Linked DNA regions of Homo sapiens. The protein of the gene in region 1 interacts with the protein of each later gene in a pairwise test. Each region holds a gene or a part of one and is shown in the gene's direction. Other genes may lie near its edges. The genes, in order: JPH3, PATZ1, ZBTB25, WWP2, ZNF774, USP10 and TTC19.

The links.
Region 2: the proteins of JPH3 (region 1) and PATZ1 interact in binary tests that used the Homo sapiens proteins (3 or more experiments, as listed by UniProt).
Region 3: the proteins of JPH3 (region 1) and ZBTB25 interact in binary tests that used the Homo sapiens proteins (3 or more experiments, as listed by UniProt).
Region 4: the proteins of JPH3 (region 1) and WWP2 interact in binary tests that used the Homo sapiens proteins (3 or more experiments, as listed by UniProt).
Region 5: the proteins of JPH3 (region 1) and ZNF774 interact in binary tests that used the Homo sapiens proteins (3 or more experiments, as listed by UniProt).
Region 6: the proteins of JPH3 (region 1) and USP10 interact in binary tests that used the Homo sapiens proteins (3 or more experiments, as listed by UniProt).
Region 7: the proteins of JPH3 (region 1) and TTC19 interact in binary tests that used the Homo sapiens proteins (3 or more experiments, as listed by UniProt).

What each region holds. Positions count from the first base shown.
Region 1 is NC_000016.10:87,605,505-87,609,824, forward strand, and holds part of JPH3 (junctophilin-3), read left to right. Parts: intron 1-4,320. UniProt on the Homo sapiens protein: Junctophilins contribute to the formation of junctional membrane complexes (JMCs) which link the plasma membrane with the endoplasmic or sarcoplasmic reticulum in excitable cells.
Region 2 is NC_000022.11:31,332,352-31,336,671, reverse strand, and holds part of PATZ1 (POZ-, AT hook-, and zinc finger-containing protein 1 isoform long C), read left to right. Parts: intron 1-808; coding exon 809-980; intron 981-1,255; exon of another isoform or gene 1,256-1,323; intron 1,324-4,320. UniProt on the Homo sapiens protein: Transcriptional regulator that plays a role in many biological processes such as embryogenesis, senescence, T-cell development or neurogenesis. Interacts with the TP53 protein to control genes that are important in proliferation and in the DNA-damage response.
Region 3 is NC_000014.9:64,486,762-64,491,081, reverse strand, and holds part of ZBTB25 (zinc finger and BTB domain-containing protein 25), read left to right. Parts: intron 1-541; coding exon of another isoform or gene 542-548; coding exon 549-721; intron 722-3,024; coding exon 3,025-4,159; 3' UTR 4,160-4,320. UniProt on the Homo sapiens protein: May be involved in transcriptional regulation.
Region 4 is NC_000016.10:69,768,634-69,772,953, forward strand, and holds part of WWP2 (NEDD4-like E3 ubiquitin-protein ligase WWP2), read left to right. Parts: intron 1-4,320. UniProt on the Homo sapiens protein: E3 ubiquitin-protein ligase which accepts ubiquitin from an E2 ubiquitin-conjugating enzyme in the form of a thioester and then directly transfers the ubiquitin to targeted substrates.
Region 5 is NC_000015.10:90,354,793-90,359,112, forward strand, and holds part of ZNF774 (zinc finger protein 774), read left to right. Parts: intron 1-4,058; coding exon 4,059-4,165; intron 4,166-4,320.
Region 6 is NC_000016.10:84,776,500-84,780,819, forward strand, and holds the end of USP10 (ubiquitin carboxyl-terminal hydrolase 10), read left to right. Parts: intron 1-2,395; coding exon 2,396-2,583; 3' UTR 2,584-3,423; downstream 3,424-4,320. UniProt on the Homo sapiens protein: Hydrolase that can remove conjugated ubiquitin from target proteins such as p53/TP53, RPS2/us5, RPS3/us3, RPS10/eS10, BECN1, SNX3 and CFTR.
Region 7 is NC_000017.11:16,005,938-16,010,257, forward strand, and holds part of TTC19 (tetratricopeptide repeat protein 19, mitochondrial isoform 1 precursor), read left to right. Parts: intron 1-536; coding exon 537-631; intron 632-3,040; coding exon of another isoform or gene 3,041-3,069; exon of another isoform or gene 3,070-3,127; intron 3,128-4,320. UniProt on the Homo sapiens protein: Required for the preservation of the structural and functional integrity of mitochondrial respiratory complex III by allowing the physiological turnover of the Rieske protein UQCRFS1.

The sequences.
Region 1 (4,320 bases):
GCGATTATGTTGTGACTTTTTAGGGAAGAAAGGATCTGATTCTGTGGCTGGCCGTGTAGTTTAGGATCTGACGGGTTAAGGGGAGAGATGTTTTTCTCTATAGGTCCACTTCCCTGGGCTCTCCACTCCAGCCAGACAGCTCCCTCAGCATCCTGCTCCCCTAAGCCCTTCCCCTCCTTGTGGTCCTGCCTGATCATGTCCATTCTACAGATGAGGCCAGTAAGGCCCGGGCTTTGTGATTCAGGAGTCCCAGCCTTTGGCTGCAGGGATCCCCGATCTGTCTGGGACCAAACCCCCCTCGTTCTTGCATCACATTGCCGGAAGAAGCCCAGATTGTCAACATCCTCTCAAGGGGTATGCGGTTCTTAGCTCTCCCATAAGCAAAGCCAGGCAGGGATGCAGATGGGGAGCTTCATGGCCGGCTCTCCCTTTTGGTTGGCAACATGGCATGACAGGAAATAGAATTGACCCTTCTGGTCTTGAGGACTCGGGCCTGGACATCTGGGCCACTTTTCTGGAGGGCTCCCAGCTTCCTGTTGGGAAGGGGGTGATTATGGCACTGAGTGTCCCCAGGCAGCCCATGGAAGGAGCCTGCAGGGTGTGGGGATCGCCAGAATGGGGCAGAGACCTCCATGCCTCCTTCCCAGTCAACTGGTGGGTGGTGACAGCCATGTCGCAGTGAGGAAGGAGTTAATGGCCCCAGCTCCACTCTGACTTTTCCTTTGCACAAGAAGTGGGGGAATATTGGGCAGCCATCAGCGAAGCTCTGGAACCTCAGCCCAGCTCTGGGCGCTGACTTGGGGAAATGGCGATTTTCATGAATGATGCACCAGCGGCCAGCGTATTCCACATGTAGCTGGAATTGGTGTGGAATTTCAGCTGGGGACACCTGTGCCAACTCCTCCTCCTCCAGGTGTGTCCTCCCCTTAGGGTACTCCCTGATTGAGCTGAGTAGCTCCTACCGTCTGCATGGTGAGGCCTGGGGGTGTGGGGTACAGGCACACTTGCTTCCAGTCACAACCCCAGCTTGCATCCTGGGCTTGAATCCCTGCCCTACATGCCCTGTTTTGTGACCCTGGTTGGATTACTTAACCTCTCTGAGCTTGTTTCTTCATCTTTACAAAAGGTTGATAACAATACCTGTAAGGTGGGTGAGGATTAATTGAGAATGGTGTGCGTGGCTATGCCAGGAATATAGTAAGCATACATTATTATTTACCGTTAGTTTTTTCATTACAGTTTCCAGGCAATGCATGTCACTTACAATGATCATTATTAGAACCAACATCTGGACAGGAGACTGGTGATCATGTAAATGATGTTAAATAGCAACATTAGATACTTACTGTCTGCCAAGCATGTGGCAAGTGTTAAATGAATTACAGCCCTTAATTCTTACACCTCTAGAGGGTGATTTTCTTGTTATTCTCATTTTCCACACTGGGAAGTGGAGGCTCCCAGTGGGTGTGGGTTGGGAGGAACCAGCAGGCGTCACACTCAGGACAGCCATCCCAGAGCCTGGGCCTTTGCTAGGTACGTCGCTCTCTAAATGCCCCTGTGCAAAAACACCTCCTGTTCTTTCCTCTCGTTTATATCTCTCGTTCTCTTGTGCGTACAGTGGCCCAGAATTGCAGGTGAATGCCCATGCACAGACGGGCAAACCCATACACTGCCCAGGACCCCTGGCCCCCTGAGGCCCACCATGCATGCCGGTGCTGCACCGCACAGGTATAGATCTTTCCTTCGGGTGCTGTGTACACAGAACCCCTCGAATCGAAAGTTACCCCCTCCAATAAGCCCTCCTACACCCTGAAAGATATGAGTCATCTCACGCCCAAGCCTCTCCCCCTCATACTCAGGTCCCGTTCACCGGCCCAGATTCCTCAACCCACACAAATCACACACACCCACAGTCGGAATTCAGATCCCCCCAGGCGCCTGCGCACACACACGCGCACAAAACACCTGCCACCCGGAGACATTTTCCACCCCGTCCCCCAGAACGCAGCCACTGCGCCCTTGCGGCCTTGCTTGCTCTCCACTGGCCAAGGACTCTGAATCTCCACCAGGCCTGTAAACGGGGAGCTCAGATGACAGAGGCAGTGGTGTGCTTCGTTTCCATTTTAAACACACGTTTATGCTGTTAGTGCCCTTTTAGGGAGAAAAATCCCTCATCTCAACAAAATAAACTACCATGGGGCGTATGCTTTGTGCTTGGCTATGACTATGACTATGCAACAAGTAATTTCTTTTTCAAATGAGTGCCCAGGTTAGAAGGAATCAGGTTCATTGGTGCGGAGATTATGCCAACAGAAACTCATTTCAGAAACAAGAAGCAAGCCCTGAGCAGTTGGAGACGAAAGCGTTTTCTCCGAGATTCTCTTTCCGCTACTTCGGGGGGCGGGTGGTGAAAGGCTCCGTAAGGTGAAAAGAGAAAGGAAGAAGCAAACAGCTATTTTTTTGTTGCCAGTTATAGCTGAGAAACAAATGTGGCTGAAGGGCACCCCTACCCACGTTGGCCGTGAGGCCGTTTGATGGGCTTTGTGTGAGGAATCCTGAGATGAGCTGGCCGGGGAGTGAGGACCGGCACCCGCCTACAGCAGCGATCTGGAGTAGTGAGTGAGCAGCCCCAGCTGACACAGAGAAGGAGAGAGAGAACTCTGACCCCTTCTCTTCTGAGGACACCCAGCCGGAGAGAGCAAGAAGGGGTGGAGTGTGGGGGTGGGGGCAGGAGCCTCTGCTGTTCCTTTCCAAGACTTTTTCTTCCTGTTTTCCCCAAGCCTCCACAACTCTAAATATGACGAGCTCTCAACTGTGAGCTAATAATGTTGAATGTAACGCCCTTTGTGTCCTTAGATGACAAAAAGACTTGTGAGTACTAGAGGAGAGGGTGATGTTGGTGTGAATTTTCCACATTGGTCCGTGTCTCCGTGGACTGGCCGCTTCCCCCGCTGGTAGCTTCATGGCTGTGAGAGGCCATGCGGTGGATGGAGCCACCGCTGCACTGGGGTCCTGGCTCGAACTTGAGTAAGGTGCTGTCTTCCAAGTCTGGAGAGGAGAGGAGGAGAGAAGAGAGGCAGTCCCTTCAGCACCTTGGAGAGCGCTCCCGGCTGCCTGCCTGGGTTGGGTGGACGGCTGGACTCACTTTCGCTCTAGGCATCCTCTTCAAGCCAAACCATCTCTCCTTGCCAGTGACCGCCTGGTCCCGGACCCTCCAGCACACTCAACCACCAGAAGTGTGCCTATGCCTGTGCCAGATGTGGGGGCCACGCCTGCGATCCCAACACTTTGGGAGGCCGAGATGGGAGGTTCACTTGAGCCCAGGAGTTTGAGACCAGCCTGGGCAACATTGTGAGACCCCCGTCTCTACAAAAAATACAAAAATTAGCCAGGTGTGGTGCTGCACGCCTGTGGTCCCACCACTCAGGAGGCTGAGGTGAGAGGATCGCTTGAGCCCCGGAGGTCAAGGCTGCAGTGAGCCAAGATGGTGCCACTGCACTCCAGCCTGCTGACAGAGCCAGACCCCATCTCAAAAGAAAAAGAAGAAGTGTGCCTGGTCCTACTCAGTCGGTGCATGGATTCCATGCTCCAGGAAGGGCTGCCACTTGGCATGCCTGCCTATGTTTTCACCCCTACCCTGTCAGTCCTTCCTGAAGAAGTGAGTGTCTTCTGAGGTAACATCCTCTGCTGGTCAACTGGGAGAGCAGCTCCCAGCTTGTGGAGGTGGGTTTGGGGGTGAGACTTTATTTTTTTGTTTTTATTTATTTATTTATCTGTTTTGAGATGGAGTCTCACCCTGTAGCCCAAGGTGGAGTGCAGTGGAGTGATCTTGGCTCATTGCAACCTCTGCCTCCTGGGCTCAAGTCATTCTCATGCCTCAGCCTCCCGAGTAGCTGGGATTACAGGCATACACCACCACACCTGGCTAATGTTTTGGGTTTTAGTAGAGACAGTGTTTTGCCATGTTGGCCAGGCTGGTCTTGAACTGAACTCAGGCGATCTGCGTGCCTCGGCCTCCCAAAGTGTTGGGATTACAGGTGTGAGCCACTGTGCCCGGCCTAGGGTGAGACTTTAGTAAGATGTATAGAAGTTGCTCTGAAGTCTAAGGTGTATTCCTGCCATAGGATATGTGTGTTCACTTCTCTTGGAGCATAACAGGGGTCATAGGTGCACAGCCGAAGGCAGGCAGAGGAATGATTTGTCTGTACCAGTCAGTGAAACTGTTTCACCACCATTCTCTTTACATCTGCCTCAATGGGTGAGTCCTCTAGACCAATGGTCCCCAACCTTTTTGGCACCAGGGACCTGTTTCATGGAAGA
Region 2 (4,320 bases), on another chromosome or scaffold:
ACCACACCCGGCTAATTTTTTATATTTTTAATAGAGATGGGGTTTCACCATGTTGGCCAGGCTGGTCTTGAACTCCTGACCTCAGGTGATCCACCCATCTCGGCCTCCCAAAGCGCTGGGATTACAAGCATGAGCCACCGCACCCGGCCCACAGACACTTTTGAAGCCTCTGGCCCTTGCTGTCTGCTAATTCTCATGTCGTCAGAATTGCCACTATCATTTAATGGGCTGCTTTTTCAATTCAAACTCGTGAAAATATTACGAATAATTATCTCTGCACTTTGTCCTGCCTTTCCTTTCCATTTCCCTGGCCAAGACTAATGTCACTTTTGAATAAAATGAACAAATATAATTCTTTGTATAAAACTAGGGGAAACCCAGGGATACAGAACAGGAAGGCTGGTTTATATGCCAATAACTCATCTGTAAATTCATGTAAATGTAATTCTGTGCATTATAGCTAATGCACCTAAAGTCAATTCTTAATGTCTAAGGATGAGCAAATGTGTAACTCTTCATTGTGTAGAGGGGTATAGAGCTTAGCTTGCCATGTCCTGGGTACATTTCCAGTAGTCATTTAGTTAGTACCAGTGATTCCCACTCAAGTGTCCCGTAAGGAGGTACCATGGGAAATAAGAGCAGCCTCTTGGCATTCTGGGTAGGGAGCCTGAGCCAAACTCTAAAGCTGTCTTTATAAAGGGAGGTCATGTGATGGCCAGAAATTGCCTTTGCTTCATGGTGCACTTGGTGGGGAGTCAGGTGTGGGGTGCTGGGTTTCACATCATCCCATTTTCTTTTCTGCCTTCAGACCTGCAATGCTTCTTTTGCCACCCGAGACCGTCTGCGCTCCCACCTGGCCTGTCATGAAGACAAGGTGCCCTGCCAGGTGTGTGGGAAGTACTTGCGGGCAGCATACATGGCAGACCACCTGAAGAAGCACAGCGAGGGGCCCAGCAACTTCTGCAGTATCTGTAACCGAGGTAATCTGCCCACTGTTTCCTCACTTCCAGAGGATGGGCCTGAGCGTGTATGGGAGGCCTAGGGGTGTCTCAATCACCCTGCCTCAGACTCCACTCTTTGCACAGCCACCCCCTACTTCCCACTGAATGATAAACACCTTCATCACCCAACTAGCTATTTGCTACCTCTTCCTTCCCAAGAAGCTTGGGGTGCTTAGAATGGGAAGTCCCAGGAGACCAGCAGGTCAAAACAGAAGGAGAGAGGTTCTTCCCAAGCTTGGGCCCATAACTCTCACCTGCTACTCAGATGGCAGGATGGATGCATTTTGCAGACACCACTGAACCACTGAGGTTGGTGGGGGAGTTAGTAGGTCCCAAAGTGAGAGAAAAAGAGGTTGGTCCGGCTTGAGAGCTTTTGCTGGTTGATTCACTGGCATATGAAATTCAGCAGCCAGGGAAGGAGGTTGAGTCTGGAGATAAACAAGGAGCAGACACTTTGTAGCACAAGTAGTCAGAAGAGAGCCCAAACTCAGGTAGATTGTGGCCTTGAGAGAGGAAAGTGGAAGGTGCTCTGAGCAGGGCAGCATGCTTGAGGACAAGGTGGGCCTAAGTAGTGTCTAACTCTGTGGCAGTGGTGTTGTGTTGGGTGAAGTCAAGCCTGTCCCCAAGGTTCTGCCGGGTCTAGTTGGCTGTTGGAAGTGCTAGATGTTTGTGTTTTGCAAGCACAGCATCAGTGGAGGCTTGCACTGTGTCTGTGCTAAAGGAGGTTGGAGCAGCTATCTGTGAACGTGAGGATGCTTCTGCATGGTGTGCTTTGCTTTGGCCAGTGGGGAGCACTGGGATGTCCTTATCTCCTGGGGCATTCTTGCTTGTCCCAATGCTTCCGAAAGCCTGCTTAGTGGGTGCAGCACTGAACCAGGAGTCAAGAGACCCAGGGTTTAGTCCCAGCCTCTCACTAGGTGGCCTCGAGTTCTCCCATTCCCTCTCTAAGCTTGAGTTTCTTCATCTCTCAAATGGGGTTAAGAATAGCCCCCTTTCCCACCTCACAGGGCTGTTATGAGGATCCCAGGAGACAAGGTAGGTGAAAGGAGCCGCACACTTGGGAGACTCTATCCTTGCACTTTGTAACAATGTTGGGAAAGACATGCTTGTTGACACTCTGGGTTGGACCAGGCACAACACTCCTGCAGGCCTTGGCGGAATCGTTGGGTGCCTGTGCTGTGTTCATGTGCCGAGGTCCACGGTGGAAGGAGATTGCTGAGTAGCTGGGTGTTCTTGGTGTCCTGGAACTGGGTCCCTCCTTGCAGCTTCATACCTGGGGTTTGTACCACCAGGACACCTGCTGTGAAAGCAGGGAAGTAGTAGTGAAGGTCTCTTAAGCTGTCTGTTCTGTTTTCTGACATGTCATTAGAGCCCATTGCTGACAGGAGCTTCCTCCAGGTTGCAAGCGGTGGGCTTGCGCATGCAGGGAGAGTTATCAGGCTGTGGCTGACTGTCTTGACTGGGGCTTCCCCAGCCCTAGAAATAATGTCGTTTCTTGTCTTGCTTCATCCTAACCTGGCTTCCTGACAGCTCCCCCGGATAACTCAAAACCTGCTGTAACAAGCTGTTAGCAGGCATTTTGTCAAGTTTTCAATATGGAAGTTCCCAGTCTGAGAACTGGGGTCAGAGACCAGAGGTTGAAAACTGCTGAGTGGAGAAGGGTGCTCATGATAAAACTCAGAAAGCCCAGACCAGATGGTGGAGTAGGGCAGAAACTGGACAGGAGACCCAGGGCTACAGCCCTTGAAGCCCAGCTCAGGAGGAGAGAAAAACTGAGAGCAGCAGGGACAGTGGGAAAGTTGGCCCAGTAAGGAAGCAGCTGATGTGGCAAAGCCAACAACTATTGTACATCAGGATTTATTTTCCAAGGGCTAGTAAAGAGAACTTGGGCAACAGCCATAAGCTACATGACCGGAATGGAGAATCCAGAAGAGTAAACCAGAGTCTACTTTTTCTCAGAAAAGCCAAGACTGGGTCTGGATCACAGGCCAAACATCTCTGGGTTCCAGAGCCAGAGCGGGAAGTCCCTTTCCTGCAAGAAGACTAAAGAAGGTGCTGGTCCAACCCATGCTGGGTACTCAGAAAGAAGAGAAAACAATTGCAGTTTTTATCAGAAGAGAAGGAGCAGGATTCTACTCCTGGACTCATTCCTTGGGCAGAAATAGGAAGAGACAAAAAAAAAAAAAAAAAAAAAGGAAGAGGATAAAGTTCTTTCTGAGCACCAAAAACATTGAGACATTGGAATCAAAATGCAGAGAGCTCTGTGTCCTCCTTTGCCCTGCTGCCACCAAGCCTGTACCTACAGGAGGGGTTGCACGAATAAACGAATGTTCTTATCTCTGCATGTGTTCAAACAAAGGCTGAATGTCAGAACAGTTAAGATTGAATCAGGTGAACTTCCAGGTGCCCTCAGATCCTTCAATCCCAACAATTCTTAAATAGTTGACTTAAGTATCTACCTATAGATCTGTCTTTTTCAATTTTTGCCACAAAAATGACTCCTGGCTGTGAAGAATGGCAAAGAGGAAAGGCAGCCTGACTCCTGCAGCCTCACACGTGAGTCAGATGCAAGTTGAAGAGACAGATGACTCTGGCTTTGTCATACAGACATATCAGGATGTGTATGATACTATTTGTACAGGAAGATCATTTGCAGTGGAGGGAGTATTATGGCTAGAAAAGCTTGTTCCCACATTTTTGAGTTGAGGAAATCAGTTGAGTTGAACAGTGGAAAAGGGAGAAGGCCCTGGCTGATCACCATGATTTTCTTCCTTTAAAGTTTCTGTAGCAGGATCTTTGTATATATGCCTATGTGCTGGTATGGTGAAGAGGAACAGATTATCAGGAATCCGCCTTTGACAGAGACATTTGAATGCAAACATCATTGCTTGAAAGGTAGAGGAAGCCTTCTCCCCAGTCAGAGGTAAGCACACAAGTGGATGGATGCAGGGAACCTGCTGTTCCCCTGGACTCACATCAAGCTATGTAGGCCCACTCCAACACAGTGCAGTTGGGAATGGCCCCTTCAGGGTTTGGACAAGGAGAAAGCAGTCCCCAACCCCTGCATTGATGTGGAACCTGCCAAAGGATGATTTGCTTCTGGAGTGCCAAGTGCAGGCACACCAGGCAAGAAAATGCAACTGAGGAGCAGTGGCCTTTTGCTAATAAGACCATCGTCTCTGGAGTGAAAGGGCCGGTGGCTTGTTGGTTGTAGTGGCAGTCATATGTGTGCTCAGCATCTCCATTGCGTGGATGGCTGGATCAAGCTGCCTCTTTGGATCTTGGTTAATCAGTGGTGAATGGGTGGGTAAGTTTAGAA
Region 3 (4,320 bases), on another chromosome or scaffold:
CATTTGATGAGAGTTGGGAAGCCAGTATCCCCTGAGCACCAGAGGATCCCTGAGGAGGAGTGACATCTCTAGCTCAGCCAGGATACCGTGTTATGTTATTAACATTTATAGCTAACATCGAATAGCAGTTTCCATTACAACATGATTTTCACATAAGTTATTTAACTCTGAGGCAGGAATCAGTATCTCATTTTCATTTTTCTAATGAGGAAACAAGATTAGAAACATTGTGTTCACATAGATGGAAAAGGACAGGTCTGTCTTCATGTGTCACTCATACCAAGCTATCTTCTTACCAGATGAAAAAGGGTCATATTTTATGGTTCAGCAGAGTTTATATCAGTTGTCATAATGGAGGAATTTAGTGTTAGCCGTGTTTGCAGTGAAAGTAATAGGATTGAAAACTTGAATAATTTCATTTAAATTTAGATCTCCTTGTTACTCTGTAGGTTTGTGTGAACTGTAGACAATTTTGTATTAATAAAAAATAATGCGTATATACATACACACCTATCTACATTTATCTTGTCCTTTTTTTCAGAACCACAATGGACACTGCCAGCCATAGCCTTGTTCTTCTCCAGCAGCTGAACATGCAGCGAGAATTTGGTTTTCTGTGTGATTGCACAGTTGCAATTGGAGATGTTTACTTCAAAGCCCACAGAGCAGTGCTTGCTGCTTTTTCTAACTATTTCAAGATGATATTTATTCACCAAACAAGGTAAGGATGTGTTTTTGTAAATAAGAATTTTTAATATTGTGATTTATATAAGCTTTATTATAGTATCATTTTGGAAATTCTTTGTTACGGAGTCACACTAAGAAGTAAAATTATAATTTTTTTTTTTTTTTTTTTTTTTTTTTTTTTTTTTTGGCGACAGAGTCTTGCTCTGTCACCCAGGCTGGAGTGCAATGGTTCAGTGTCGGCTCACTGCAACCTCTGCCTCCCAGGTACAAGCGATTCTCCTGCCTCAGCCTCCCGAGTACCTGGGATTACAGGCGCCTGCCACCACGCCCGGTTAATTTTTGTATTTTTAGTAGAGGCAGGGTTTCACCATGTTGGCCAGGCTGATCTCAAACTCCTGACCTCAGGTGATCCGCCTGCCTCAGCCTCCCAAAGTGCTGGGATTACAGGCATGAGCCACCATGCCTGGCCAAATTATAATAATTTTTTATACATTAGTAATTAAACTCAGTGTGTAGGATCCATAATGGAAAATAAGAATGAAAATAAGAATAGCTAAAATTGGCTGGGCGCCATGGCTCACGCCTGTAATCCCAGCACTTTGGGAGGCCAAGGTGGGCGGATCACAAGGTCAGGAGTTCGAGACCAGCCTGGCCAATATGGTGAAACCCCGTCTCTACTAAAAATACAAAAATTAGCCAGGCATGGTGGTGGGCGCCTGTAGTCCCAGCTACTCGGGAGGCTGAGGGAGGAGAATTGCGTGTACCTATGAGGTGAAGGTTGCAGTGAGCCGAGATCGCGCCACTGCATTCCAGCCTGGGTGACAGAGCGAGACTCTGTCTCAAAAAAAAAAAAAGAAAAAGGAAAGAATAGCTAAAATTTATTGAAGGCTTATCCCATACCCAAGCACTAAGTATTTGCCCTATAATGTAAATTCTACTGCTGTCCCTATTTCAGGAAAAAGAAAACTGAGACTGAGTTAAGTAACATGCCCATGCAGGATTATACAGCTAATAAGTTAGATGCAGATTTGTCTGAAGCTATGTCTATGCTTTTAGTCACTAAGCTGTTAATTTTTGTTTCATATAACACTTTTGTTTTTTTTATTTTTTATTTTTATTTTTTTTGAGACGGAGTCTAGCTCTGTCACCCAGGCTGGAGTGCAGTGGTGCCCAGGCTGAAGTGCAGTGGCATGATCTCAGCTCACTGCAACCTCCGCCTCCCAGGTTCAAGCAATTCTCTTGCTTCAGTCTCCCTAGTAGCTAGGACCACAGGTGTGCGCCACCACACCCGGCTAATTTTTTGTAATTTTAGTAGAGACAGGGTTTCACCATGTTGGTTAGGCTCCTCTTGAACTCCTGACCTCAGATGATCCACCTGCCTCGGCCTCCCAAAGTGCTGGAATTACAGGCGTGAGCCACCGCACCCTGCTGATTTCAATAGGTTCTTTCAGAAGTTTTAAGATATCTTTATTGTGGCTATAAACATATAAAATTTGCCATTTTAACCATTTTTAATTATACAATGCAGTGGTGATAATCACATTCGCAATGTTGTACAACCATTACCACTGTCTATTTCCAAAACTTTTTTATCACCCCAAACAGAAACTTTGTACCCATTAAGCAATAACTCCCCATCTCACCCTCTCAACCCCCAGAAACCGCTAATTTACTTTCTATCTCTATGAATTTGCCTATTCTAGATATTTTATATAATACTTGTCCTTTTGTGTCTGGCTTATTTTACTTAGCATGATATTTTCTGGGTTCTCCATGTTGTAGCATGTATCAGAACTTCCTTCTTTTTATGGTTGAATAATATTCCATTGTGTGTGTAAGCCATCTTGTGTTTATCCACTCATCTTTTGGTGAACACTCAGCTTCTTTCTACCTTTTGGCTACTGTAAGTAATGTTGCAGTGAACATTGGCATACAGGTATCTGTTTGAGTCCCTGTTTTTAGTTCTTTTGATCGTTTACTTGATAGACTGTTAAATTCCTTAAGAGCAGGTACCTATTTTATTCATCAGTTTTCTACCGCTGGCATCTAGTATAGTGCATATCACTTAGGAGTCACTTGATTAATGTTGAACTATTCAGAATGTATGTCTGTGTTTCCTAACTTTAGGCAGTAGATTGAATACATGAAGACTTTTTGCTAGGCCATAAAGTTGGTATAAAATGAAAGTTTAAGCCTTTGTTGCCATGTTTTATTAAGGCAGATTGCTAGGTTCGAACTTCTTAGGAAGAAATTGCTTTAGTCTCAGACTATACTGTTAACTGAAAGGCCAGCTAGGTTGTGTTTCATTTCTTGTGGGTCTGTTTTTGTTTTTAACAGTGAATGCATAAAAATACAACCAACTGACATCCAACCTGACATATTCAGCTATTTGTTGCACATTATGTACACGGGGAAAGGGCCAAAACAGATTGTGGATCATAGTCGTTTGGAGGAAGGGATTCGATTTCTTCACGCCGACTACCTTTCTCACATTGCAACTGAAATGAATCAAGTGTTCTCACCAGAGACTGTGCAGTCCTCAAATTTATATGGCATTCAGATCTCAACAACCCAAAAAACAGTTGTCAAACAAGGACTGGAGGTCAAAGAAGCTCCTTCCAGTAACAGTGGAAACAGAGCTGCTGTCCAGGGTGACCACCCCCAGTTGCAGTTGTCTCTTGCTATTGGTCTGGATGATGGCACTGCAGACCAGCAGAGGGCCTGTCCTGCCACCCAGGCCCTGGAGGAGCACCAGAAGCCCCCAGTTTCCATCAAGCAGGAGAGATGTGACCCAGAATCTGTGATCTCCCAGAGCCACCCCTCACCCTCATCAGAGGTGACAGGCCCCACTTTTACTGAAAACAGTGTCAAAATACACTTATGCCATTACTGTGGGGAACGTTTTGATTCCCGTAGTAACCTAAGGCAACATCTCCATACACATGTGTCTGGATCCCTGCCATTCGGTGTCCCTGCTTCCATTCTGGAAAGTAATGACCTTGGTGAAGTGCATCCCCTTAATGAAAACAGCGAGGCCCTTGAATGCCGCAGGCTCAGCTCCTTCATTGTTAAGGAGAATGAACAGCAGCCAGACCACACCAACCGGGGTACCACAGAGCCTTTGCAGATCAGTCAAGTATCTTTGATCTCCAAAGACACAGAGCCAGTAGAATTAAACTGTAATTTTTCTTTTTCAAGGAAAAGAAAAATGAGCTGTACCATCTGTGGTCATAAATTCCCTCGAAAGAGCCAATTGTTGGAACACATGTATACACACAAAGGTAAATCTTACAGATATAACCGATGCCAAAGGTTTGGTAATGCATTGGCCCAGAGATTTCAGCCATACTGTGACAGCTGGTCTGATGTCTCCCTGAAAAGTTCTCGCTTGTCACAAGAACACTTAGACTTGCCTTGTGCCTTAGAGTCAGAGCTCACACAAGAAAATGTGGATACTATCCTAGTTGAGTAGCAGCTTCTCTTTCAGAATTTTTATACCAATTCTGAAAAAGAAAATTTGCGTGGCATTTTTAATTCATAAATTATTTTCCTCCTCAAGTTTCATTGACTTTTTTTCTTCACAGCTTATCCATGGTTTTAAGGTTGTATATATTAGATCTTCTCATAAGACAT
Region 4 (4,320 bases), about 18 Mb from region 1:
ATAACAAGTACCAAGACATGGCAGTCCTGACCTAGGGCCCGTCCTCTTCCTCAAGTCACCCATGCCTTTTGCTTCTTGTTTTGTCTTCAGATCTGCTTTCCAGTCAGCCTCTTTTATTCTTAGCCTGTAATTCCACGGGGCTTCCAATAGTGTACCTCCCTGCTCCCTCCCGTTTTCTCTTTTTCCGTGCTTAGTCTTTGTAAGGATGTCATTTGGCAAAGTTGATTCTGTTTGATTGTTTTTCAATATGGGCCTTTGGAGAATGGAAGGTAGTAACTCAATGCTGGACAGAGGAAGGAGGCCAAGAAAGAAGCATTAGTGTTGGAGTAGCATGAGCCTGTGAAGAACAGGAGAATCTTTTGGACAGAGCTTTTCCTTGCATATCTTTCAAGAAATGAGTGCAGGCTGGGCGCAGTGGCTCACGCCTGTAATCCCAGCACTTTGGGAGGCCAAGGCGGGTGGATCATGAGGTCAGGAGATCGAGACCATCCTGGCTAACGTGATGAAACCCATCTCTACTAAAAATACAAAAAACTAGTCAGGCGTGGTGACAGGCACCTGTAATCCCCGCTACTCGGAAGGCTGAGGCAAGAGAATTGCTTGAACCCGGGAGGTGGAGGTTTGCAGTGAGCCGAGATTGCACCACTCACTCCAGCCTGGGTGACAGAGCAAGACTCCATCTCAAAAAAAAAAAAAAAAAAAAAATAGAAGTGGGTGCAAGGTTTATCTCTAGTTAGAAATAAGCTCTGCCTGTTTCTACAGCTGGTTAATTAGAAATAAAATCTTTGTGAACCCATGGATTATATTGAAAAAAATTTTTTAAAACAAGAAATAAAATATTGATACTGGTGTGTAATTTCTGCTTTTCCCTGGCTCCTTCTACACAGGTCTTTTCATCTCAAGATCGGTGTTCACTGGTTTCTTGACTCAGAGCTGGGTCAAGAATTTTAGGAATTGAGGTGCTTGTAATGCCAGAGCCAAGAATTTCAGTATCGAGAAGTGGTTTTGTTTGTAGTTGATATTTGAAGAGCTCTTACTGTGTGTCCTCTGCTTTACCTGAATTCATGTAGTCAGTACAGTAATCTTATAAAGTAAGTACTATTATTGGGTTCATTTCACAGATGAGAAAACTGAGATTTAGAGAGGGTAGGTATGATTTTGTGAAATATATATTTAGTCTTCCTCCCATTTCCTGGCCTATAACTCCTAAAATCATTGAAATCTCCCAAGTGATCAGTGTCTTTTTTTTTTTTTTTTTTGAGATAGAATCTCGCTGTGTCGCCCAGGCTAGAGTGCAATGGCATAATCTCGGCTCGCTGCAGCCTCTAAGCGATTCCCGTGCCTCAGCCTCCCAAGTAGCTGGGGCTACAGGCACATGCCGTCATACCCAGCTAATTTTTGTATTTTTAGTAGAGATGGGATTTCGCCGTGTTGGCCAGGCTGGTCTCGAACTCCTGAGCTCAGGTGATCTGTCTGCCTTGGCCTCCCAAAGTGCTGAGATTACAGGTGTGAGCCACCACACCTGGTCAGTGTCTTTTTGTGTGCTAATAATTGACCTTTGGTTGGGGACTCCTGGATAGTCTCAGGATTTGGGGGCCAGTGGCCAGGGAAACCAGCCTTGTAGTTAGAGGGTTGGCACTTTTAGTCCCACACCCAGCCTCTGGGACAGGGAGAGGGACTGAAAGTTGACTTGATCTGCAGTGGCAGTGACTTAATTGATCATGCCTGCGTAATGAAGCTTCCATAAAAACCCTGAAGGACTGGGTTTGGGGAGCTTCTGGATGGCTGCACACGTGGAGGTTCTTGGAGGATGGCACCCTCAGAGAGGGCTTGGAGGCTCTGTGCCCCTTCTCACATGCCTCGCCCTACGTCTCTTCATTTGTATCCTTCATAATATCCTTTATAATAAATCAGTAAATGCAAATAAAGTGTTTCCTTGAGTCCTGTGAGTTGCTCTAGCAAATTTATCAATCCTAAGAACCTCGATTTATAGCCGGTTGGTCAGAAGCACGGGTAAAACAACCTGGAGCTTGCAATTGATGTCGCAAGTCAGGGGCAGTCTTGGGGAACTAAACCTGTGGGATCTGATGCTATTTCCAGGTGGATAGTGTAGGAACTGAATTAGAGGACACCCAGCTGGTGTCTGCCAGCTGCAGAATTGATTGCTTACTTGGTATGTGGGGCTCCCACACATCTGGTGTCAGAAGTATTCTGTGGGGCTGGGCGTGGTGGCTCACACCTGTAATCCCAGCACTTTGGGAGGCAGAGGTAGGAGGATCGCTTGAGCCCAGGAGTTTGAGATCAACCCGGGCAGCATAGTGAAATCCTGTCTCTATTAAAAAAAAAAAAAAAAGGTAGTATTCTGTGTTGTGAGAGTATAGCAGGAAGAAACTGAGTTTGCTTTTTCCTCTCCATCCTCTCAGTAAGTAACTTGCTCTGGATCACTCAAAGGCAAATGAGTGGTTCAGCTTATTAGCCTCCAGAAGATTGACAGGTCTGAAAGGTTGTTGCTGAGGTAGGGTGATAAAAGTGATCAGGTGCTTCAGGTATTGCAGGAGCTGCCACTAGCTTAATCTGATGTGTAGTTGTTTTCTCCTGTCAAAAGTTCTGTAATAATTATTATTTTTCTTTTTGAGATGAAATCTTGCTGTGTCTCCCAGGCTGGAGTGCAGTGTGCTATCTTGGCTCACTGCAACCTCCGCCTCCCGGGTTCAAGCTATTCTCTTGCCTCAGCTCCTGAGTAGCTGGGATTACAGGTGCCTGCCACCATGCCCGGCTAATTTTTGTATTTTTAGTAGAGACGGGGTTTCCCCATGTTGGCCAGGCTGGTCTCGAAATCCTGACCTCAAGTGATCCACCCGCCTGGGCCTCCTAAAGTGCTGGGATTATAGGCATGAGGCACAGAGCCTGAAGGACTGTAGCTTTGTAGTAAGTTTTAAAATTGGAAAGTGTTAGTCATCCAACTTTGTTCTTTTTCAAGATTGTTTTGGCGATTCTGGGTTCCTTGCATTTCCTTACTTTAGGATCAGCTTGTCAATTGCTGAAAAACAATTCTCTTTTTCTCTCTGTTTGTTTTTATATCTGGCTTTTTGGCCAAGGACTTCTGCAATGTTTGTTGACATTTAGGTGTGAAGTACACATGTATGCTAGGACCCAAGTGCGGGAAGGTGAGTTGGGTGGGGGAAATTGACCTTTTCAGTTTATAATGTAGACTTTCACTGTCTCGCTGGGTCAATATGGTGCCTTATCCCTATTGTCAACTATGCCTGAAGTCTTGAGTTTGGTTTCACCTGTTGAGAAACTAAAAGTCTTTTTAGTCTTTTTTTTTTTTTTTTTTTTTTTTTTGAGACAGAGTCTTGCTCTTGTTGCCCAGGCTGGAGTGTAATGGTGTGATCTTAGCTCACCATGACCTGTCTCCCAGGTTCAAGCTATTCTCCTGCCTCGGCCTATCCCAAGTAGCTGGGATTACAGGCACGCACCACTACACCTGGCTAATTTTGTATTTTTAGTAAAGACAGGGTTTCATCATGTTGGTCAGGCTGGTCTCGAACTCCCGAACTTGGGTGATCCGCCTGCCTCGGCCTCCCAAAGTGCTGGACTAAAAGTCTGCTTGGGATTAGGAAGGGGCAACTGCTTGGTTGAACTGGGTGGGGAGGGGACTCTGGGACTCTAATCATTCCCAAGATAGGCTTTTGCCAGTCCTCCTGTTTTTAGCCCCACTTCTGCCCTTACTTTCGGAGGTACCTGTACTACTGATGCAGGGCACGTGAGCCCCAAAACTGGGGGTTAGTCTGGGTAGGTTCTTGGCTTTGCCCTGGAAAGAATTCAAGGGCAAGCTGGTAGTAGAAGAAAACAGCTTTATTGAGGCAGCAGAGTTACAGCTCCGTGACTGCTCCTGCAGAGCAGGGCTACGCTATAGGCAGTGTGTCCCTAGTAGCAGCTCAGGGGCAGTTTTGCTGTCATATTTATACCCAGTTTTAATTATATGCAAGTTAAGGAGTGGGCTATTAGACATTTCTAGAAAAGTGGTAACTTCTGGGGCATTACCATGGCATTGGCACACTGTCATGGCACTGGTGGGTGTGTCTTGTGGGGAGGTGCTTTTGGTGCCTCTTCCCTGTTTCAGCCAGTCTTCAGTCTGGTCCTGAGTCGAGTCCTCCCTCCTGCCTCACCACCAGTGATTGACCCTTTCTGGAATTCTTCATTGCCAGTCTGCTTGCCTTCTGTTGACCTCTCTTGTGGGCAGCTAAGTTTCAGTTTCGACACACTGGAACCATTTTCCAAAATTTTGCTGCTGTTTCCGTTGTGTTTTTTTCCCTT
Region 5 (4,320 bases), on another chromosome or scaffold:
TTATTTATCTTGTTTTTTTTGAGACGGGGTCTCGCTCTGTCATCCAGGCTGGAGTGCAGTGGCGCGATCTCGATTCACTGCAATCTGTGCCTCCTGGGCTCAAGCGATTCTCCCACCTCAACCTCCTGAGTAGCTGCGATCACAGGCATGTGCCACCATGCCTAGCTAATTTTTTGTGTTTTTAGTAGAGACAGGATTTTGCTATGTTGGCAAGGCTGGTCTCACTATGCTGTCCAGGCTGGTCTCAAACTCCTGAGCTCAAGCAATCCACTGGCCTCCGCCTTCCAAAGTGCTAGGATTATGGGCGCCACCATGCCTGACCACTGCTCTCCTTTAATTTGAGACTTAGATATTTGGAGAGGGCCCAGGTCTGAGGAGTTTCTGGTATGTTGGCATCTTAGAGCTCCAGACCTCTGTAAGATTAATTGTTGCCTCCTTGGGAGAAAAACAATTACTTCCTTATGCATTTTATGGTTTGCAAATGTCTTTGCTATTTATTGTCCTTTTAATATCTCATCATAACTTTTTGACTTATGTATTACTATCCCCCTTTTCCAGCCTGGGTTGGACTCTCACCTCTGCCACTTAACTTCTGAGACTTCTGAGGTCTTTGTGGAAAAGGAGGTAATTTTTTCTGTCACTTAAAAACAGGCTGGGGGCAGTGGCTCACGCCTGTAATCCCAGCACTTTGGTAGGCTGAGGTGGGCGGATCATAAGGTCAGGAGTTCGAGACCAGCCTGGCCAACATGATGAAACCCTGTCTCTACTAAAAATAAAAAAATTAGCTGGGTGTGATAGCGGGCGCCTGTAATCCCAGCTACTTTGGAGGTTGAGGCAGGAGAATTGCTTGAACCTGGGAGGTGGAGGTTGCAGTGAGCTGAGACCACGCCATTGCACTCCAGCCTGGGCAATAGAGCAAGACTCTGTCTCAAAAAAAAAAAAAAAAAAAAAAACAAGGCTGGGCGCGGTGGCTCATGCCTGTAATCCCAGCACTTTGGGAGGCCAAGGCAGGGAGATCACAAGGTCAGGAGATCGAGACCATCCTGGCTAACATGGTGAAACCCCGTCTTACTAAAAATACAAAAAATTAGCCAGGCATGGTGGTGGGCACCTGTAGTCCCAGCTACTCGGGAGGCTGAGGCAGGAGAACAGCGTGAACTGGGAGGCGGAGCTTGCAGTGAGCCAAGATCATGCCACTGCACTCCATCCTGGGCGACAGAGCAAGACTCCATCTCAAAAAAAAAAAAATAAATAAAAAAAACCAAAAACACCTCCAATGCTCTTTCTCAAATATCATGGCTACCCTTCCTCCTGCTTTACTTCTTTCTTTCTTTTTTTTTTTTTGTGGCAGAGTCTCGCTGTGTCGCCCAGGCTGGAGTGCCATGGCATGATCTCGGCTCACTGCAACCTCTGCCTCCTAGGTTCAAGCGATTCCTGGATAATTTTTTGTATTTTTAGTAGAGATGGGTTATCTCCATGTGGTCAGGCTGGTCTCAAACTACTGACCTCAAGTGATCCGCTCACTTCGGCCTCCCAAAGTGCTGGGATTATAGGAGTGGGCCCAGCTCTAATTTTTGTATTTTTAGTGGAGTCGAGGTTTCACCATGTTGGCCAGGCTGGTCTTGAACTCCTGACCTCAAGTGATCCGCTGGCCTTGGCCTCCCAAAGTGCTGAGATTAGAGGTGTGAGCCACTGCGCCTGGCCTACTTCATCTATTATACAAGTAATGTATACTCATTCAATAAAAAGTCAAGCAAAATGAAAACAAACATCATCCCTAATCCCACCAATGAAGAGTTACTATCCTACCAGCATTTTTCTAAGCATATATACAATTTTAAAAGAAGCACAAAAGAATAATATTGGGATTATGCTGTATATTCAGCTGTACATTCTTTCTTCCATGTTGTATTGTGAGTATATCTTTCTTTACATCACTTAAAATAACCACCTAGTATTTTGTTTTATGGAATACAATATTATTTTGTTGATGAAGTCAAACATTAGATTGAACCATATATCTGACCTTTTTTTAACCTATAAAAATAGCAATTGCCTGAGCTACTTGGGAGGCTGAGGCAGGAGGATCCCTTCAGCACAGGAGTTCGAGGCTGCAGTGAGCTATATAATTATTCCTTTGTTGTGGGACATTTAGGTCATTTCTAAACTTTCACCAGGTTGTGATAAACATCTTTTAGCTCGTTTTTTAAAAAGTATTTTTTATTGAAGTATAATTTTATCATTTTCTTAGAATTCTCAGAATTAGAATTGGTGGGTCAAAGAACAGATACATTTCTAAGGTATTTAATACTTTGCAAAATGCCTTCCAAGAAGATTGAATCAATTGATTTATTCCCACAAACATTATATGAAAGTGCGCATTTCTTTATATTCTACCTTTCACAGTGGGTATTATAATTTAAAGAGTCTGGGCCTGGGTGTGGCAGCTCATGTCTATAATCCCAGCATTTTGGGAGGCTGAGGCAGGAGGACCACTTGAGCTCTGGAGTTCCAGACCAGCCTGGGCAACATAATGAGACCCTGTCTCTACAAAAAGTTACATTAACCAGGTGTAGGGGCTTGTGCCTCTGGTCCCAGCTACTTGGGAGGCTGAGGTGAGAGAATCGCTTGAGCCAGGAGCTCGAGGATGCAGTTAACTGTGATTGTACCAGTGCTCTCCAGCCTGGGTGACAGAGCAAGAGCCTGTCTCAAAAACAAACAAACACACACACAAAACACAAAAAAAGAGTCTGGGAAAAATAGCAATAATAGTTAACATTTATTGAAGTTTTTTTTGGAGATGGAGTCTCAATGTGTTGCCCAGGCTGGAATGCAGTGGTGCAATCTCAGCTCACTGCAACGTCCGCCTCCCAGGCTCAAGCAATTCCCATGCCTCAGCCTCCCAAGTAGCTGGGATTACAGGTGTGCACCACCACACGTGGCTAATTTTTGTATTTTTAGTAGAGACAGGATTTCTCCATGTTGGACAGGCTGCTCTTAAACTCCTGGCCTCACAAGTGATCCAACTGCCTTGGTCTCCCAAAGTGCTGGGATTACAGGTGTGAGCTACTGCACCTGGCCAATGGATCTTATTCTTATCCCAATTTTTTTTTTTTTTTTTGAGATGGAGTCTCTCTCTGTCGTCCAGGCTGGAGTGCAGTGGTGTGACCTCGATTCACCATAACCTCTGCCTCCTGGGTTCAAGCGATTCTCCTGCCTCAGCCTCCCGAGTAACTGGGACTACAGGCCTGTGCCACCATGCCCGGCTAATTTTTAGTAGAGACGGGGTTTCACTATGTTGGCCAGGCTGGTCTCAAACTCCTGACCTCGTAATCCGCCTGCCTCGGCCTCCCAAAGTTCTGGGATTATAGGTGTGAGCCACTGAGCCTGGCCTCTTATCCCTATTTTATTGATGAAGACATTGAGACACAGAGTTTAAGTAACTTTCTTAAGGCCACACAGCTTGTAAGAGGCAGGATGATGACTCAGACCCAGGCAGTGTGACTCTTGAGTTTGCACTCATTACCTCTACACTATATTGCCTCAGTGTATCATTGTTATAATGGAATTTCTTTGATTATAGTGAGGTTAAACATTTTTCGTATATTTACAGGCTACTTAACAACTGTTTGTCTTTTTCTCATGGCTTTTTTGACTGCTGCCATTCTGGGAAAATTTTAAAGCCCAACATTATAGTTAACTTCCTTCATTGTTTCTAAGGGTGAGGTCATGGAGGCTTGGTTTCTGATAAAATCCTCTCCATATTTAGCTTTAGCCTTGTACCTTCAGAAATGGTTATTGTATTTACTTCAGAGTTTCTGTCACCTGAGTCTGGTTTTTTTTCTTTATGGGAGGAAAAGGGCTTTTTTTTCTTAACATTTTGGGGAAATCACCGTGTTTTATCACTGTACCATGGCTGCACTTTTTTAATGACACCAAATACACGTTAGAGCTCCCCAGGTGTTCTTCCATACCTAGGCAGGGAGTAGGGCTTGGATTTTGCTCAGGCCTTGTGTGATTGGCTCAGACTCACATCCTATGTTTACATTCCTGTGTAGAATTTCCAGGCCTAGTGTAATCTCCCAGCCGGAGCAGAAAGAAGAGCCATGGGTCCTACCACTCCAAAACTTTGAGGCGAGGAAGATCCCGAGGGAAAGCCACACAGGTGAGATGTGAGTGCTCCCCAGTGGAAGGAAATCTAGCATTTCAGCCTTGTTTAGATGAAGAATTTGGAATGCTGCCTTAGAATTTTGTTCTTACTAGCAGACATTTTTTTTTTTTTTTTTTTTTTGAGACGGAGTCTCGCTCTGTCGCCCAGGC
Region 6 (4,320 bases), 2.8 Mb from region 1:
GTCTCCAGCCCTGTCTGGAATGGAAGGTCTGAGTCCTCAGACTCTGCAGCCAGCCATTATCCTGCCTGGCTCCTTGGAGTGTGGCACCCAGGTCCCAGTGGGTGGCCAGCAGTTTCTCCGCCTTCTCCCTGCACCTCTTCCCCTGGAGGCTCTTGCGGGGGACATCACTGGGCAGGGGCAGGGGCTAGGGATTGCTCCTCTCCTGGTCAGGGCCCCAGTGTGAGCACACACACCCCTCCCCGACTCTGCAACCTGCCTCGCCCCGGGACCTGGGCCTGGGTTGCTCTCCCCTGCCCTCCTGAATCCTCATCCCCTAACCCATTATTTTTTTGAGATAGAGTTTTGCTCTGTCGCCCAGGCTGGAGTGCAGTGGCACAGTCTCCATTCACTGCAACCTCTGCCTCCCAGGTTCAAGTGATTCTTGTGCCTCAGCCCCCCGAGTAGCTGGGATTACAGCTGTGCACCACCACATCCAGCTAATTTTTGTATTTTGAATAGAGACGAGGTTTCGCCCTTTTGGCCAGGCTGGAAGCCTATTCTGATCTTGGAAATGAGGTCACCGGACTGGTTAGAATTACCTGTAGAGTGAGCAAAGGAACACTTTTTAAGAACTGCTGTGATTGTGGGGCCTGGGAGAAGCAATCTCGCGCACAAGCTTTTCAGGCGGTTCTCAGCGCTCCTGTCAGGGGGGCTTGCAGGTGTGAGTGACACACGGCTCAGCCCAGGGTAGTTAACTGGGCTGCTGCTTATGAAACTAGAATGGTGACATGCAGTCCCCCTTGACATTTTAGAATGGAGATGTCTTGTGGGAAAGACAAGTTAGTAAAACCCCCAGGCCCTGCAGATTCTACTGATGGTCGCTTTGAAGCAAAACTCTTAGCCCAGTCAGTTAGGTCTGTGAGGTGAAGATCTAGGACAGAAGTCTCAAAGTGAACTTGGGATCCAGGGGACATGCTGCTGTCATGGGTGCTTCCTGCCCTTTCACAAGATGGCTGTGACTTGTGCAGCACAGGATGAAGCTATGCCCTTGGATTGGCTGTGTCCCTGGCTCTCCGAAGTACGGGCCCCACAGTCTTGCTGTCCCTATGCTGTTCAGTCTCCTCCGGGGTCCCTGCACAGAGGATTTCTTTGTGCAGAGCCCAGGAGTCTGACTGGTGGCCTCAGTCATAAGCACTGTCCTCTAGCCAGCCAAGGTCCCTGGCCCAGAGAGGACTGAGGCCTCCTGCTGTCATTTAGCCCCTCCACGTGACAACTGCGACTAGAACCTGGTGATGTTTGGTCTTGTTTTAGTGCTGAAATTCCCTACCAGCCAAGTCTTGCATCTCTCCTGGTTCCTTTTCTTTTGTGCCACTGATGGTGGGCGCAGCTTAGCAGGCTGCCCTGTCATTCCCCGCGGAATGCTGCCGGACAGCCGCCTTCCCGAGGCTGGTGTCTGCTGCTGGCCAGGCAGACCTGTGCCCCTCTGCTCCATAGAAGTGGAGGATGTGTTCTGTGGCTGTCTTAATGTTTTCATGACATCTTCTACAGATTTTTTGTTTTAGGCCTTTGACTAAGGCTTCTTGGTTATAGGATTTTTTTTTTAAGTAAATAACTGTGTGTGTGTGTGTGTGTGTGTGTGTTTTGTTCTGTTAAAACATAGAAAAATGGGTAATTTTTTTTAAAGGCAAATGCGTAACTACCAGCACCATCTCCGCAGTGCCCCACCACAGCTCCACGCTCAAGCAACCGTGGTTAGCAGTCCCAGGGTCCCTCCTGCCATGTGGGCCGGCACCGGGAGATTGTGTCCCGTGTCTTTAGGATAGATGGGCCACAGAAGGCCTAAGGACCTTGTTTTCTCATTTAATATACCATAAGCGTATTCCCGCATCACCATTCTTAATCTATTCCACGAAAAAATAAATTGTGTTATTTTAATATAATTTACTCATCAGTCATTTCTTCTAGTGGCTATTGAGGTTTTCCGTTTTTTCACTGTTATAAATGACATCATAATCTCTGTCCAAGATTCAGATAATCTCTTCAGGACAGTCTAGAAGTAGAGTCAGCCACATCCAAGGGCATGAGCCAGGTCTGTAGGCCTGTACAGCTGATGGCTGTGTAGGAGTGTCTGTGTGAGGCGTGGGACATTTTAAATATGTGGTTAATATGCGTACATGCACACATGTACCTATCTGACTTACCCTTACCTTGCAGTTATAGAAAAGTTTTTATTATGGATTGCTTGCGTGTTTGAGTTGAAATAGCATTGGTTTGTGTGATGACATCTCTCTGTCCCACCTGCTTTGGAGAGGGGTTTTACACATAGGATGCATCCCTGGAGGGAAGTCGGCGGAGACCTGTAATGATTCGTGTGCAGTGCTGTTCTCACTCTGCTGCCTGCTGGGCTCTCTTCCAGTGGTCTACCATCACGGCAACAGTGCGACGGGCGGCCATTACACTACAGACGTCTTCCAGATCGGTCTGAATGGCTGGCTGCGCATCGATGACCAGACAGTCAAGGTGATCAACCAGTACCAGGTGGTGAAACCAACTGCTGAACGCACAGCCTACCTCCTGTATTACCGCCGAGTGGACCTGCTGTAAACCCTGTGTGCGCTGTGTGTGCGCCCAGTGCCCGCTTCGTAGGACACCACCTCACACTCACTTCCCGCCTCTCTTTAGTGGCTCTTTAGAGAGAAACTCTTTCTCCCTTTGCAAAAATGGGCTAGAATGAAAAGGAGATGCCTTGGGGTTCGTGCACAACACAGCTTCTGTTGACTCTAACTTCCAAATCAAAATCATTTGGTTGAAACAGACTGTTGCTTGATTTTAGAAAATACACAAAAACCCATATTTCTGAAATAATGCTGATTCCTGAGATAAGAAAGTGGATTTGATCCCCAGTCTCATTGCTTAGTAGAATAAATCCTGCACCAGCAACAACACTTGTAAATTTGTGAAAATGAATTTTATCTTTCCTTAAAAAAGAAATTTTTTAATCCATCACACTTTTCTTCCCTACCCTTTAGTTTTTGATAAATGATAAAAATGAGCCAGTTATCAAAGAAGAACTAGTTCTTACTTCAAAAGAAAAATAAACATAAAAAATAAGTTGCTGGTTCCTAACAGGAAAAATTTTAATAATTGTACTGAGAGAAACTGCTTACGTACACATTGCAGATCAAATATTTGGAGTTAAAATGTTAGTCTACATAGATGGGTGATTGTAACTTTATTGCCATTAAAAGATTTCAAATTGCATTCATGCTTCTGTGTACACATAATGAAAAATGGGCAAATAATGAAGATCTCTCCTTCAGTCTGCTCTGTTTAATTCTGCTGTCTGCTCTTCTCTAATGCTGCGTCCCTAATTGTACACAGTTTAGTGATATCTAGGAGTATAAAGTTGTCGCCCATCAATAAAAATCACAAAGTTGGTTTAAAGGTGTGTGCGTGTTTCTTTGAATGCGAATGCCTTTTCGGGTAACTGAAATTCATGGGGGCATGAGTTTGCCTGCAGAATTAAAATCTGCCCTTCGATCAGCTCGACGTGTTTGTGGAAGCTGAACCACCACTCAGGTTATGCTTGTTTAGTATTTTCAAATGGATTAGTGATTTGGGTACACGAAGTTTTTGACTCTTCGATTGGCAGAAAGGAGGAGGTTTTCTCCCCTTCCCCTCCTCATCCCTTGTTTCTATAGCCCACCGTTTTCAGTATCACCAAAATAGTTGCTGTAGGTCAAGGCTAAATGCTCTTCAGTTGAGTGCCACTGGGGCGGCTGAGCGGTGCCTCCAGACGCCACCCTCAGTAGTGGGAAGGAAGCCTTCTGAGACGGAAGACATGGAGAGAGGGATGTCACGTGCAAGGGTGCCCGTGCCCCGGCTTCTGGCCCTGTGTGGATGATTGTGGTGTCCTGAGATCTACAGAGAAGGGGTTTTAACGTGGTCTGAGCCTTTCTCTCAAGTTCTTGCTCTTACCATCTGGTATTTCTGATTGTAGCCTGGTGCCATCTGGGGTTCAGAGCTTCCTAAACTTTCTGTACAAGTGTTGTCCGTCTAACCTACTTACCCTTTGTAATTCTATTGTGATTTGCTTGGCTGAATTATAACTCATATTGAGAGGTGAAGCCAGCTGGACTTCCTGGGTCAAGTGGGGACTTGGAGAACTTTTCTGTCCTCTAAGAGGATGGTAAAATGCACCAATCAGCACTTTGTAGCTAGGATTGTAAAACGCACCAACCAGCACTCTGTAGCTAGCAAGAGGTTTGTAAAATGCACCAATCGGTTCTTAAAACGCACCAATCAGCAGGAGTCTAAAAGCAGCCAATCACAGGGAGGACT
Region 7 (4,320 bases), on another chromosome or scaffold:
ATTCCTAGCTTTTTGTGTCCTAAGTTATATTAAATGGATGACTTAAAAAAACTGCTTTGAGAAATGGCAGATTTGACACTACTTAGACTTTAAGCAAAGTTCCCTCTTCCCATTTTACACTTCCTTTACTGATAATGTTTAAACTGAGCTGGAAAAATGAAGATAAAAAGAATTTGTGAAAAGGTAAATGGGCCGGGCGCAGTGGCTCACGCCTGTAATCCCACCACTTTGGGAGGCCGAGGTGGGTGGATCACTTAAGGTCAGGAGTTCCAGACCAGCCTGGCCAACATGGTGAAACTCTGTCTTTACCAAAAATACAAAAATTAGCTGGGCATAGTGGCGGGCACCTGTAATCCCAGCTATTCGAGAGGCTAAGGCAGGAGAATCGCTTGAACCCCGGAGGTGGAGGTTGCTCTGAGCCGAGGTCACGCCATTGCACTCCAGCCTGGGCAACAAGAGCGAAACTCCATCTCAACAGAAGGAAGAAAAAAAAAAGAAGAAAAGGTAAATGGCTGATTATTGATTTTGCTTTACAGACAGGAATTTGCTGTTGCTGGCTATGAATTCTGCATTTCAACTCTAGAGGAAAAAATTGAAAGAGAAAAGGAATTAGCAGAAGACATTATGTCAGGTAGGAAACCCATTATCTGGGCATTGCCTTTTCTCCACAAAAGGCTTTACTTTACACTTTTGAGAAATGGAAAGAGATCTAAATTGGGAAGAGGGAAAGTTACCTATTTTGCAAAATAAGTGTCTGTCTTTAAGGTATCAGCAGAAGTTTTGGAATAAGATGTTTTATTTAAAATATTTGACTGCTGTTTTGGTGGTGGTTTTTTTTTTAACCCCCTTGGTAACATGGTCATAATTTATTTGTTAACTTTTAGTTACATATAACTTAAGGAAAATTGGGGAGCAGAAGGAGAAGGTGTTTCTCGTATCTCTTAGTTCAGCTACCAATCAAAATGCTTATTACGTTTTAGCCCTAGATATACAGCAAATTAAGAAAGAAGAGAAAAAAAGCTCATGTTTTTACAATCCATCCTCACTCATTCTGGAGGCTAGGAATAGAACTGGATGAGCAGGAAGCTCTCTAGCTCTCCACCATTTTGGGTTTCTTAATTTGGGTTGAAGTATTGAGAATTTTCAGATTTGACATTTATTCAATACCTACTCTATACCAAGAGCTACCGAGATGGTAGGGATACAGCAGTCAACTCTTCTGTACCTAGTGGTCTTCTAACTCTCTCTTGAACATAGAGTAGTCCCCCGTTATCCATGGGGAATATGTTCCAAGACCCCCAGCAGATGCCTGAAACGACTTCTAATACACTGTGTTTTTTTCTTATATATATGTACCTATGATAAAGTTTAATTTATAAGTTAGGCACAGTAAGAGATTAACAACAATAACTTTTAATAGAACAATTATAACTATATACTGTTAACAGTGTCACAGACAGGAGATTCATTCTTATTGTAGATCTTATCAACCTCAGCATACAGTTTTTTGTTTTTTGTTTTTTGTTTTCTTACTAAGTTGAGAACTTTCACCTTTTCATTAAAAGGAAGCACTTTATGACTTCTCTTTGTCATATTCAAATTGCCAGTATCACCACTCTCACACTTTGGGGCCATTATGTAAAATATGGATTGCTTGAGCACAAGTACTGCAACATTGTGGGTTGATCTGATAACTGAGACTGCTGCTAAGTGACTGAGGCCAGCTGCCGTATACAACTTGGGTACACTGGACAAAGATGATTCATGTCCTGGGCAGGATGGAGTGTGACAGTGTAAGATTTCTTCATGCCACCCAGAATGGCATGCAATTTAAAAACTTACGGATTATTTCTTGAATTTTTCATTTAATATTTTTCGGACTCTGGTTGACTGCAGATAACTGAAACCCCAGAAAATGAAACTGTGGAGTAGGAGGGATCACTGTACACCAATTTTTTTGTTTTCATCACTCCACTGAAGCTACCTTTATCAAAGTCACCAAATCCAATGGTTACTTCTCAATCCTTAACTTACTCATCAGCAGCTTTAACTTAGGGGATCACTGTCTCCTACTGAAAATACTTTCACTTGGCTTCTGGGATGCCTCACTGGTCTCTCTAGTGAGGTGAATAGACTTCCCTACCTCTTAATGTTGGCACGCCTTAGGGCTGTTTTCAGCCCTATTCTCTTTTCTCTCTGCCCCAACACCTAGGAGATATCTTTTAGTTCCATAGTTTTAAATATTAGATTTATACCTTCAGCCCCAACTTGCCCCCAAATGGCAGACTTATAATTATGATTGCCCACCCGACATCTTGACTTGAAGTCTAATGGTCATCTCATACTTAACATGTCCAAAATAGGTCTCAGTTTTGCCGCTCACAACTTGTTTCGTCACCAGTCAGCCCCAGATTTGTAAATGGCACACTACTCATTTAGTTGCTTTGGCCAAGAACCTAAGAATTGTCCATGATTTCTTCCTCATTCCTCATATCTAATCCATCAGCAAGTTATACTGGATCAGCCATCAAAATATATCCATACTGACCATGTCTCATCCCATTACCCTACTGCTTTGGTCCAGGCCATCACTGTTTCAAGACCTCAGTACCTTTGTATCACCTTTAGAATAAATTTAGAATCCCTGCATGGACCTGTAAGGCGCTTATGACCTGGGCCCACCCACCTCTTCCATGCCATCTGCTGCTCTCCCCTTGCTCGTTCCAGTCTCACCACACTGGTCTTATTCTGGCACATTCCAAGCTTAGTGCCACCTCAAGGCCTCTTTGCTTGATATTCCCCCTACCTAGACTGTTCTCTCTTACCTTTCTCTGGCCAACTCCCGTACTTCACTCAGGTCTCTGCTCAAATAGCACTTCCTCAGAGTGCTCCCTTCACTAAAACTATCATCTCTTCCCACCTTACTATTGCTCTACTCCTCTTTCCTTTACTTTTCTTCATCACACTTAAAAGTAGAGGTGTGTGTGTTGTGTGCTTGTGTTTCTCCACTAAAAGTATGTTTTTGTTTAAAAATTTTTAGTCTTTGTCTTCCATATCAAAGAAGGATAGAGACTTCATCCATTATACTCAGTGCTAAATCCTCGGTGCCTAGAACAGTGCCTGGCACATAATAGAGGCTCAATAATTACTGAATGAAAGAACAAAAGACCCAAGAAAGACCAGCAAATAAATCCAGTTTCAGTGCAGTGTGGAAGTGCTTTGAGGAAATCCACAAGAGGTGTAAAAACAAGTCTAGCTGTCAAGTAAGTCACTTCTGAACTATTTACACCTTTGCTGTCTTTCATTTATAGTGTTGACTATGGTTTCTTAGGAGTGTAAAGCTATATTTTCTGATTCAAAAAATAATACCAGTAAACACTGAAGAAAGTTTAGAAAAGCACTAAGTAAAAATCATCTGTAATCATACTATTAAGAAAGAGCTACTGTTTTATTTATTACTACGGCTTTTCGGGTTACATTTTAAGAAATAAATTTGGGATGATACTGTATATCCTACTTTGTAACCTGAGTTTTAACAATTTAGTAACATATTATGAAAACACTTTTTTTTTCCAGGCAAAGGAATTCTTGTTAGATAGAGCAAGCTAATTTCTATTATAAATATTATTTTTACATTTTACTAGTTGCACAGTATAGAAAATGTGTTACATGATTCTTCATCTTATTTTTTCTAGAAAAGGAATTCCTACCTATTCAGTTTTGCACAAAGCAAATCCATTATCAAATTTACGTGCTTTTTATTGACACAACTATCTCTATTCTAGGATAACATTACTTAATTACATAAAATTACATTACTTAATTACATAAAACCTTGCTCTAGGATAATTATTTTGTTACCTATGTTGTAGACATATATGTACTTACTGAGGAAATGCCCATAAAAAATTAAGTGAAAACTTTGGTTACAAAACAGTATAGTTAGTATGTAGACTAAAAATAGGAATGGAACAAAGGCTGAATGATAGATATCAAAATACAGGCAGTGATTCTCTTTGGTTGGTAGGTTTATAGGGAATTTATATTTTATTTGTGTTTCTCTGAGTATTCTATAATTTTGTACAAATTTATATTTTTCTTTTTAATTTCCAATGTTATCTGTTAGTATAAAAAGTCAAATAATATTAATAGTACAAAGCTTAATTTAAGAGAGCATTTTCTTGGCTATCTCACCCACCCCATCTATTTTTTTTATTTTTTAATTTTTAATTTTTTTTTTTTTTTTTTTTTTTTGAGACAGAGTCTCACTCTTGTCACCAGGCTGGAGTGCAGTGGTGCAATCTCGGCTCACTGCAACCT